Homo sapiens: one gene and its partners. The protein of the gene in region 1 purifies or fractionates together with the protein of each later gene. This does not show direct contact. Each region holds a gene or a part of one and is shown in the gene's direction. Other genes may lie near its edges. The genes, in order: ZNF514, CMBL and SRSF10.

Region 1 (4,180 bases):
ATAACAGAGTGTCTTAAACTGGGGAATTTGTAAACAACACAAATTTGTTGTTCACAGTTCTGGATGCTGGGAAATGCAATATCAACGTGCCAGCCAGTTCAGGGGCTGGTGAGGGTACGTTTCTCATAGATGGCACCTTCTGTGTCCTCACATGGCAGGAGGAGCAAAGGGGGCTTAAGGCCCGTTTTTATTTTTATTTATTTATTTAATTTATTTTTTGAGACGGAGTCTTGCTCTGTCGCCCAGGCTGGAGTGCAGTGGCACGATCTTGGCTCACAACCTCTGCCTCCCGGGTTCAAGCAATTCTCCTGTCTCAGCCTCCTGAGTAGCTAGGATTACAGGCGTGCACCACCACGCCCAGCTAATTTTTAAATATATTTTTGGTAGAGACAGGGTTTCACCATGTTGGCCAGGCTGGTCTCAAACTTCTGACCTCAAGTGATCCGCCCGCCTTGGCCTCCCAAAGTGCTGGGATTACAGATGTGAGCCACCACGACCGGTCTAAGGGCTGTTTTTAAAGGGCACTAATCTCATTCATGAGGGCAGAGTCTTCCAAAGGCTCCACTTCTTAATACTATCACCTTGGGAGTTAGGTTTCAACATATGAATTTGAGGGGGACACATACATTCAGACCATAGCAGGCCGTTTTTCCATTTCTTTTGGGTCCTAAATGATATTTGTTTCTGGAGTAGGAGGGCGTTCAAAGTCCTCTTTTGTTCTTCAGCACCCTTCGCTGAATTCAGGGGCAGATGGAGAAAGGCAAGAGGCACGGGGCAGCCTGTAGAAGCAGTATCTAGCACTGAGTCCCCAGTATCCCCTAGGCACGCCAGGAGAGCCTCCTGGAAATCCTCACTCAGCAGATCCAGGGTAGGAACGCGGCTTCTGTTGAATAGCCTTACATCGAGATATGCAGGTTGGGGGCGGTGGCTCACACCTGTAATCACAGCACTTTGGGAGGCTGAGGCGGGAGGATCATCTGAGGTCAGAATTCGAGACCAGCGTGGCTAACATAGTGAAACCCCGTCTCCACTAAAAATACAACAAATTAGCTGGGCGTGGTGGCGGGAACCTGTAATCCCAGCTCCTACGGAGGCTGAGACACGAGAATTACTTGTACCCAGAAGACAGGTTGCGGTGAGCCGAGAGCGCGCCCCTGCACTCCCACCTGGGCGACAGAGTGAGGCTGTCTCCCCCCTCCCCCCAAAAAACGAGAGAGATATGAGGCTCAGCTACCAAAGTCACGCGCGAGAAGGGAAATGCTTGTAGGTCCCTGCCCTTGGGGGAGAGCGGAGTGAAAACCGGCGCGTGGCCGGCGAGCACGGCCCCTCCCAGCGGAGGTCCTACAGGCGCCCGCGAGCCCCGCCTCTCCAGCTTCGCCGCGCCAGCACCCCGCCACCGGCGCTGGCTCTGAAGGGCCCCGGCGGCGGCCGCGTCTGCGCAAGCTCGGGACGGCCTCGGGAGGCGGGGCTGGCGCGGGGCGGACGCGGGGGCTGGCGCGGGGCGGACGCGGGGGCTGGCGCGGGGCGGACGCGGGGGCTGGCGCGGGGTGGCGGGCGGGGGCTGGCGCGGGGTGGCGGGCGGGGGCTGGCGCGGGGTGGCGGGCGGGGGCTGGCGCGGGGTGGCGGGCGGGGCCTGGTCCTGTGAGCGTTCGGAGACTGCGGGCGCGCAGACCTGTACTGGGCCCGCGCCCCGGCCCCTTACAGAGCTGGGTGTGTCCCTCCGAGTGCCCCCCGCTAGGGACTGTGCAGGCCGGAGCTAGGCAGGGACAGCGGGGCGAACCGGGCTGATAGAGTCGGTCCCTGCTCCTGTGAGGCTCTCACCGAATCCCTGCTGTTTCCGGGCAGCTGAAGAGCGCTGGGCCCTCGCGTCGCGGGCGTGGCTGTGGCCGTGTCTCCTGGTAGTCTGAGCCCACTGTGCGTGTGGATCCACGTGGGAGCTGGGTTCCAGAGCCTGGTCCTGAGGAGGAGCCGAGCCGGGGGTAGGAGGCCGGACTTGGCGAGGGAAGAGCACGACCCCGGGCAGCAGTGCGCCGCGCTGGGCGCACCGGGGTTTGCCGGCCCTGCTCTGGGCCCTGCAGGTCCGCTGGCCCCGCCGCGCCTAGTGGGGATGCCCCGTGTCCCCCAGGCAGCCCCAGCCTGCGTCCCGCTCCCTGAACCCTCGGGAGGACCACAGGGCTGTGGCCGAAAGACAGAGATTTGGACCTAGTGAAAGGACGCCGCTCCTTAGCCCCAGCTATGGACTCCACAGCATCAGGTTTGGCTCTGGAGCGTGCAGAGGGCCAGGAGCCCTCTTGGGGAGCTAGTACCGAGCCCGATATCAGGAGGACCCCAGGAAGAGGCCGGGGAATCCCACTGAAGGGTGAGGCTGTACTTCATCTGCCTTCCGTGTGGCGACATCTAACCTTCCAGACCCAGAAGGCTGAAGCCGCAGTCTCCTGGGTCTGGCAGGGGTCTCTAGATGACCGTGGCGGAGGTGGAGGGGATGGCCATGGAAAATTGTCCCAATGGCCAGAGGAGAGCAGAAGAGGATCTGATCTCTTCCTGCTGCGGCAGGGAGAGGGCAAGCAAACCCAAGAGGGAGTGGCCCTTGGCCAGGGATCAGAGGACGATAGGGCCATTTGGAGCCTTGTCATCCACCTCCTTAATCACCTCACTAATAAGGTTCTTCCAGTCGTTCTAGCTCAGCGGTGTATAAGGTCAGCAGTGTACATGGTGGGTATCTCCTCTGAGCCCCTTCCCCCAATAGCGTTGGGGGCAGGGCAATCCAGGTGACCCAGGAGGTTTTAAGCCAGTCCTAAGTTTAGAACGTCCTATCTCTAACCAGGTGGGCATTTTAATCCGACTGTTCATCCTTCAGTGCACATGCTCAAGGACACATAACTGGCCAGTGGAAGAACTGGGCCCAGTCCGTGGGCTTCCCACCCCCTCTTTTTTCCTTTATACCCTTGTTAATCAGTGTGGCTCTGGGAACAGCAGAGGCATTGCCCAGAAGTTCTCTAGAATTGCAGACTCTGGGGCCCCACACATCCTCAAACAGTGTCTTAGCAAGTCTTGAGCCAGAGTTTAACAAGATCCTCAGGGATCCACACACACATGAAGCTTGAGGAATGCCTAACTGTGCTATGCTTACACCCATGTTGTTAGCCTTAACTACTTCTCTGGCATGGTTTGGGTTAGTTTTTTTGTTTGTTTTAAGGCTTTTATGAACAGTATGATGCAAAGCTTTATAATGAAGGAGCTCTCAAGTGTGTTGCAGAGACCTAACAGAGCTTGGGAACACCAGGGGCAGCTTCTCAGAAAGAGGTGGCCTCTGAGCTGGGTTCCCAAGGATGAGGGGAGAGGTGTAACTTCCTCCCCTTAAAGCCTCATAATCCTGCATGGCCTTGCCTTGGGTCTTGTGTAATTGTTAACCTGTAGGCTAGATTTAAAGTTCCTTGAAGTTCTTTTCCATATTTATATTTCCAAAAGTCCTAGGAGATGACCTGCATACAGTATGCCCAGTAAATAACTTCAGTGGTATGGCCAGACTGGTCACACTTCACTCACTTGTAGACTGATGTGGGCTGTGGACAGGTGGGAGCCTCATGCAGCTGTGTACAGGGGCACTTCTCTCAATGTTTGAAGGCTAGAAGCTGCCTCTCAGATCCTTTTGATCCACTGGTGTCCTCAGAACAACGGAGGTGACATTCAGAGCTGTTCTGGGTCTCAGGCTTGGGAAGTCTGAGAGCTGTGTGTGCTGGCTGGGTCAGCTTCCCTTATGTCTCCTTCTACCTTCCCAGCTTCCCCTTCTCAGAATCCTGCTCTTCCTCCAGAGAGATTCCCAGGAGAAGAGGGAACAACCAATTCATTCCTGAAAGCCAGGCCTCGGGTGAGTTGTATTCTTAATTTTTCCTCAAATGCCTGAACGATGGTTAGCTTTGCCTACTTTTCACCAAAAAGTAGCCTCTTTTTTCACTAAGGGAACTGACCCAATGCTGTCTCTGCAGGAGGCTGAGCCCATCCAAGTGAATGATGGCTCCCTGACCTGTCCGGGGTGTTCTCTTCTTGCTGTGCACCCACTCAGATCGTTTGGGCTTACTCTGACATATTTCTAGAAAGGGCACTGTGGTGACCACCAGGTAATGTGACAGCCCTGGCCTTGAAAGAGTGTCACAGCCACAGTGGAAGAGGACCCTGACAC
Region 2 (3,553 bases), on another chromosome or scaffold:
CACCAGGTATCTTTGCTGACTCAGAAGTTGAAAGAACACTGCAAAGTTGAATATCAAATTAAAACATTTTCTGGGCAGACTCATGGGTTCGTGCATCGGAAGAGAGAAGATTGCTCACCTGCAGACAAGCCCTACATTGACGAGGCCAGAAGGAATTTAATTGAGTGGCTGAACAAGTACATGTAGCAAGAATCAAGGGCAAGCCTTCCTAGAATAGCTTTCATCCCAAAATTTGCTTGGAAATAGTTAGATCATTTGATTTAATTTTCACTTTTATAAAATAAGTGTAGGAATCCTAAAATTGATTATTTCATTTGAAACACAAATTCAGTAGGACGTAATGCATGAAATAATTTAATTTTTGACATGTACATCGAATCATAATTTAAAAACAAGGTCTGACCAGGTGTAGTGCCTCATGCCTGTAATTCCAGCACTTTGGGAGGCCAAAGTGGGTGGATCACCTGAGGTCAGGAGTTTGAGACCAGCCTGGCCAACATGGTGAGACCCCATCTCTACAAAAAATACAAAAATTAGCCTGGTGTGGTGGTGCACGCCTGTAGTCCCAGCTACTTGGGAGGCTGAGGCACAAGAATCAATAGAACCCAGGAGGTGGAGACTGCAGTGAGCCAAGATTGTGCCACTACTGTACTCTAGCCTGGGCAGCAGAGTGAGACCCTGTCTCAAAAATAAATAAGTAAATAAATAAATAAATAAAATAAAAACCAGGTCAGTACCTGGAGAATTTGAATGATAGAGAATGATAGAGTAATACCCTAATTATTAGTTAAAACCTACAGGCCGGGTGCGGTGGCTCACGCCTGTAATCCCAGCACTTTGGGAGGCCGAGGTGGGTGGATCACTTGAGGTCAGGAGTTCAAGACCAGCCTGGCCAACATGGTGAAACCCCATCTCTACTAAAAATATAAAAATCAGCCGGGCATGGTGGCATGTGCCTGTAATCCCAGCTACTCAGGAGTCTGAGGAGGAGAATCACTTGAACCTGGAGGCAGAGGTTGCAGTGAGTCGAGGTTGCGCTACTGCACTCCAGCCTGGACAACAGAGGGAGACTCTGTCTCAAAAAAAAAAAAAAACCTACAGCTGTTCAAGGACCAGCTGACAGGTCAAGTGTGGCCTTTTCTGGTCTTTGAACACATCATAGAAAGTGACAAATGCTGCAAAGCCATGAAGAACATGAACTATAAACGGGTAGACTAACTGCCCAGCTTAGACACTTATCTATGCCACAAAACAGCTGAATTTGTCACATTTATATATTGCAATATGGGAAGTATTGAGATCAAAACAGGATTCCATTGACCTAATTATATTAAGCTAATAAACTAATTTTTTGAATTTTTGAATTTGCAGCTTTTTTAAAAAGATAGCAGAGAACGGTGGGCTAGAGTTGTCACCCAGCTGTTGTCTCCTAAGCAGTGGATTTCCAAGCACTGGCATTTTTGGGTCCCAGGGCCTGAGGCTACCTCAGAAATATCTCCTGTGTTTCTGGTGGTGGCGTAAAGGGGAGAGCCGGTGAGAAACTCTGCACCTGCACCTACGGGGTGCGTACATGTGACTTTGGGCAAGTGACTTGATGTTGTAGTTTTTTTCCTAATTTTGTCTTGACGTCCTTCTCAGGAGAGAGTGGCTGTAAACTCTAGCCCTGCCCTGACGGGGATCCTGGGGATGTGGTCGTGGGTGTTTCCCATGTGCCTTTCATGGGATCCTTCTTTGACCTCACAGACGGCCTGATTCCTGAGTGTCCAACCTGTGGCCAGGTGTCCCTCTCGCAGGAAGCTTGTTTATCCTGGCACATGACCTTGTGGCTCTCATCTGACCTGTGTCCAGTTTATTCCTACTGAGACAGCCACTCTCCCGGAGAGCCCTGACCGGGAAAGAAGTTAGGATGGGGTAGAGGAGGCAACTCATCAGAACCCAAGAAATGACAGAAGCAGTTTATTGCTTACAGATCCAGAGAACAGAGGGCAGCACGCTTCACAGGGCCAGCAAAAAGGGGGAGCCATTCAGGACACATGGGCTCAACCAGAAGGTGGAGAACGAGAGAGAGAGGGAGCTATGAGCCAAAGCCTTCACTGGGGCCCAGGGTGTCATCTATGCAGGTTTCCCCTGGAGGTTCTAACTGGGGGGTTTAGAGCAAGCAGGCATGAGCCCCGGGGACTCACGCTGTGACTGAGAGGGGTCGGTGTGGGTAGGATATCGGCATGGTCCATGTGGGTGTGGGGGTCAGTGGGACAAGTCAAGCAGGTGGTATCCAGCTGTCCATGGGAAGGTGGTCCCAGGAGGCGGTTTTGTAAGGCAGATGTCTGGATCGACCACCTTGGGGAACAGTGAGAAGTTGTATAACTGGAAACTGTGTTACTAATCCCTGCTTCTAGTATGAGAAAGTCCAACTTACATTCAAATAGATGCTCAGGAAACATAAAATTCAAAGAATTCCCAAACTTGAGCTTCCTGAGCCTCAGTTTTTGCATCTGTCAAATGGGTATGGGGAGACCCTTTGCCTAATGTTGAGAGAATCCAAGCCTGAGCAGGGCTGGTCTACTGTGGACACTTAGTTGTGGACCCCAACAGGCCAAAGCCCTTGCCTGCTGAGGGCTGCTCCCAGGAGGCCTCACACATTCATCCGGCCTCCCAGGAAACCCCTGAGATGTGCTGGGCTTTTGCCGTGGAACGGTGTCGGTGAGCATGTGGCCAGTAGCCAGAGTCTTCAACATAGGTGGGAGGTCTGAAATTCGTGCGAGAATGAACCAAGGGTGTGGCTGTATCCTTCATGGTGAGCTTGGGGCCTGGGCAGCCTTCCCTCTGCTGAGTCCTTTGGTCAAATGTCATGGTGTTCTGAACCAGCACTGCAGATAGAAGTATAATGTAAGTCACACACGTACTTCTTTAAAAAGATATGTTCTTCAGTGACTATTAGACAAACAGATAAATGAAGGTAAAGGGAAAAAATGGCAACTTTAGCTTTTTTCCCCATGTATGTAATTTTAAATTTTCTTATAGCCCCATTAAAAAAAGGAAAGAGACACAAGTGAAATTAATTTTAATAATGCATTTTAGCCCAATTTATCACAAATGTTCCATCAGTGTGTAATCAATGTAACGAATCATGAGTGAGATATTTTGTATTTTTTTTTTTTTGTTCCTCTATCTTTGACATCTGGTGTGTATTTTCTGCTTACACATATCTCCATTTGGATGCTAACTTTTCATCAGAAGTACTTGATTTGGCCAGGCACAGTGGCTCATGCCTGTAATCCCAGCACTTTGGGAGTCTGAGGTGGACTGATCATTTGAGGTCAGAAGTTCAAGATCAGCCTGGCCAACATGGTGAAACCCCATCTCCACTAAAAATTCAAAAATTAGCTAGGCATGGTGGTGGGCACCTGTAATCCCAGCTACTTGGGAAGCTGAGGCAGGAGAATCACTTAAACCCGGAGGTGGAGGTTGCAGTGAGCTGAGATGGTGCCATTTTACTCCAGCCTGGGCCACAGAGCAAGACCATCTCAAAAAAAAAAAAAACAAAAAAAAGTAC
Region 3 (3,389 bases), on another chromosome or scaffold:
GCCAAAATCACGCCACTGCACTCCAGCCTGGGCAACAGAGTGAGACTCCGTCTCAAAAAAAAAAAAAAACCGGATGTCTAGGCCAATGATAATTATTTTTGATGCAGTGTGGATTAGTTCTTTTGTTAACCCCACTGTCTTGGGGAATGATGCCAGCTGGGAAATTGAGTTTTTGACTGAAACATGGAGCCTTCACTGCTTTTTTTCTGGTTCCTATGAAGATTTGGAACATAGAAAACACAAAAACTCACCTTAAAATTTGAGCAGGTCGTTGATGGCAAAAATAATTTTAAGGAAAAAGGAATATTCTTATGTAGTTATTCTAAAGTTTAAGGAGCGTTGTTGACCATAATATTGCTTAGTTTTCTTACTGCTGTTAAGTAAGTAAATTGTTTCAAAGTAGGTTTTGTGTGTGTGTGCCTAGTGTAAAAGAACTGAAATTTTGATGCTTACAGCACTTGGCTCGTGCATTTGTATCAAAATTTGCCTGCCTCTTTATGAGGGAGGCCTGCTTTTCACACCTCAGTTTATTTAATACGAGGCAAGTTGTAAGACAACACTCATTCTAGGTGATTCTGTGGTGCCATGAAATTTAAGGTAATTTGGGGAAAAGGATTAGTCAGTTTTAAGCAAGAGTCACATCTTTTGAGCTTTCGATTATCAGTGTAGTACCTGACTAAAAATGAAGTAATACCCTTAAACCATTTATAATTTCTAGTATTTCTCTGAAAGATCGTTTTGGGGACAAAAGTGACTTGACATGTCCAATTTCATTTCAGAATAAAAAGCTAGCATCTTTAAAAATCTCAGATTGCTTGCTTACAGATACAAGTACGAATTATGGACAAACGATTCCTTTTAGAGGATTACTTTTTTCAATTTCGGTTTTAGTAATCTAGGCTTTGCCTGTAAAGAATACAACGATGGATTTTAAATACTGTTTGTGGAATGTGTTTAAAGGATTGATTCTAGAACCTTTGTATATTTGATAGTATTTCTAACTTTCATTTCTTTACTGTTTGCAGTTAATGTTCATGTTCTGCTATGCAATCGTTTATATGCACGTTTCTTTAATTTTTTTAGATTTTCCTGGATGTATAGTTTAAACAACAAAAAGTCTATTTAAAACTGTAGCAGTAGTTTACAGTTCTAGCAAAGAGGAAAGTTGTGGGGTTAAACTTTGTATTTTCTTTCTTATAGAGGCTTCTAAAAAGGTATTTTTATATGTTCTTTTTAACAAATATTGTGTACAACCTTTAAAACATCAATGTTTGGATCAAAACAAGACCCAGCTTATTTTCTGCTTGCTGTAAATTAAGCAAACATGCTATAATAAAAACAAAATGAAGGAAATAATGATTAACTGGAATTATTACAGTATTGAATATGATTCTAAAATAACAATGGAAACAGTCCTTTATAGATTTAGGAATATTTTAAATCATTGTTGCACTAGGCACAACTAACTTTTACTTTGGAAATGATAGAACTTGCCAGAAAGGTACATCTTTTACACAGTAGTTAAAAATTCATTGTGTAATATCAAAGTTGTTTCATGATTGCTCATTAAGCCTCTTGGGTTAACTAACTTAAGAGGTTATTTGGTAGTGTTAAGATGAAATTTGGATCAGCTAATTCCAAGTTTATATTTTCATTATTGGATGGATCAGTAATTCTGCTCTCCCTCTTATAAACAAGACGCATTAGGGCTTAACGTTTATGACATGATTTTAAATCATTTTAAATTGAATGTTGATGAGCAACTAATATTAAGTGATAACCTCTTTGGGGAAGTAGGTTAGGTATTTTGTGGTTTGAATTCTATCTACTTTATGACAATTATAGCTAATTTATTAAGTATTCATGATGTGCCAGACACTTGAAAAGGCTATGTGTTAACTCACTCTTCACAAAACCTTATGAGAAAGATACTTTTATTTTCCCCATATCACAGATAAGGAAACTGAGGCACAAAGAAAAGACTGTAAGGCAGAGCCAGGATTTAAGCCCAGGCCTGGTCCCTTAGTTTTGGGGGGGTTTTGTTTGTTTTACAGACTATAATTTGAGAGAAGTAGATTGAGGAGATAGCTCATTGAAATTGTTCATTTTCTGTATAGAACTAGAAGGCCTAATTTCATTTTTATTTTTACTTGTGTCAACTTATTTTTAGACTTGGACTATTGAGAATCTTATATGTTGTTCCTAAAGCGACACACCTAACAGCTTCAAAAGGACTATATTACAGTTGAACCCATGGTAGTTTGGATCCTACTGATACTTGATGAGGATCTTTACGTAGTGTTTTATGTTAGTTTTGGGTGATGTAGTTGAGTCCCCCACTTACTGAGTTTACCTACTGTGTATGACTGGGCTCAATGATAAATAGAATGGTTATATCAACACTCAAATGAGGGCTGACACACTTCACCTCTCCTTTTACTTAAGATCTCTCTGCATTTTTTTTTTTTTTTTGAAGCCAAGTAAGCAAGAAGAAAAATGAGAGATAATGCTTCAGTGAGAGAGGAAAGGTGCTACATAGAGTATGAGCTGTTAAGTTACATCCCAGGGGAAAGACCTGGGAACTATTGTATTATTCTCTTGAAAATTTGGCCCAGTAAGCTGCTACATCCAGTTCAACTAACAAAATCCTGTATACCACAGAGAAGAATAAAGGAAACCAAACTGACAAACATCCTTCTTTTATTTAAGACCAAACTGCAGCTGGAATACCCAGTACAGTTCTGCTTACTACACTTCAAGAAAGATCTGAAAGCGGAAAAAGAACCAAAGAAGGGCAGTTCAAGCGACCAAAGGGTGGGTGGAAGGTGCTGCAGTATGAATACTGTACGAATATTTTGACTCTGGTCTGAAAAGATAAAAGAATGTTATCGAAAACTACATGGAATAATTGAAGTCCCTTCAAGTTTGAAAGTAAGCATTTTAGGACAAATAAAAGGAAATTCAACTTTGTACTTGTGGAAACTAATCCCTAAATATGAATAGGTTTATATTGATTCATGGGTAACAGGTCCATAATAAATTATTGGAAACTAGGATGTCTGAATATCAAGGAAGACAGCCATAGTCTCTTACAGTGCCTCTGTTGGTCTGTCTCAAACTGAATTGGGTGGGAAAAGGTATGGTCCAATATAAAAGTTCCATTTTTGCCATTATTGGCAAATCTTGCCTTTGTTTATTTTGGTGCCAGTGTTTTCTGCTTAATCATTTGCTTTGTTGGCATCTGTGTTTATTTACTTGTACACCACATGCAGTTTACATCTGTCTTAACTACTCCTTCCCAGGTAAATTCCAATTATATTTGACATCCAGCTAAGAGGGCCCATCTCTTCTCACCTCTTTCCTAGTCAGTATATTCAGCAAATATTTAT

The links.
Region 2: the proteins of ZNF514 (region 1) and CMBL purify together in Homo sapiens (affinity purification with mass spectrometry; one large-scale study listed by BioGRID and IntAct). This does not show direct contact.
Region 3: the proteins of ZNF514 (region 1) and SRSF10 purify together in Homo sapiens (affinity purification with mass spectrometry; one large-scale study listed by BioGRID and IntAct). This does not show direct contact.

Annotation. Positions count from the first base shown.
Region 1 is NC_000002.12:95,157,039-95,161,218, reverse strand, and holds the start of ZNF514 (zinc finger protein 514), read left to right. Parts: upstream 1-1,370; 5' UTR 1,371-1,979; exon of another isoform or gene 1,980-2,235; coding exon of another isoform or gene 2,236-2,359; intron 2,360-3,779; coding exon of another isoform or gene 3,780-3,868; intron 3,869-3,874; exon of another isoform or gene 3,875-4,180. UniProt on the Homo sapiens protein: May be involved in transcriptional regulation.
Region 2 is NC_000005.10:10,277,086-10,280,638, reverse strand, and holds the end of CMBL (carboxymethylenebutenolidase homolog), read left to right. Parts: intron 1-6; coding exon 7-186; 3' UTR 187-3,044; downstream 3,045-3,553. UniProt on the Homo sapiens protein: Cysteine hydrolase. Can convert the prodrug olmesartan medoxomil into its pharmacologically active metabolite olmerstatan, an angiotensin receptor blocker, in liver and intestine. May also activate beta-lactam antibiotics faropenem medoxomil and lenampicillin.
Region 3 is NC_000001.11:23,967,044-23,970,432, reverse strand, and holds part of SRSF10 (serine/arginine-rich splicing factor 10), read left to right. Parts: 3' UTR 1-2,476; coding exon of another isoform or gene 2,477-2,507; 3' UTR 2,508-2,709; coding exon of another isoform or gene 2,710-2,770; 3' UTR 2,771-3,389. UniProt on the Homo sapiens protein: Splicing factor that in its dephosphorylated form acts as a general repressor of pre-mRNA splicing. Seems to interfere with the U1 snRNP 5'-splice recognition of SNRNP70. Required for splicing repression in M-phase cells and after heat shock.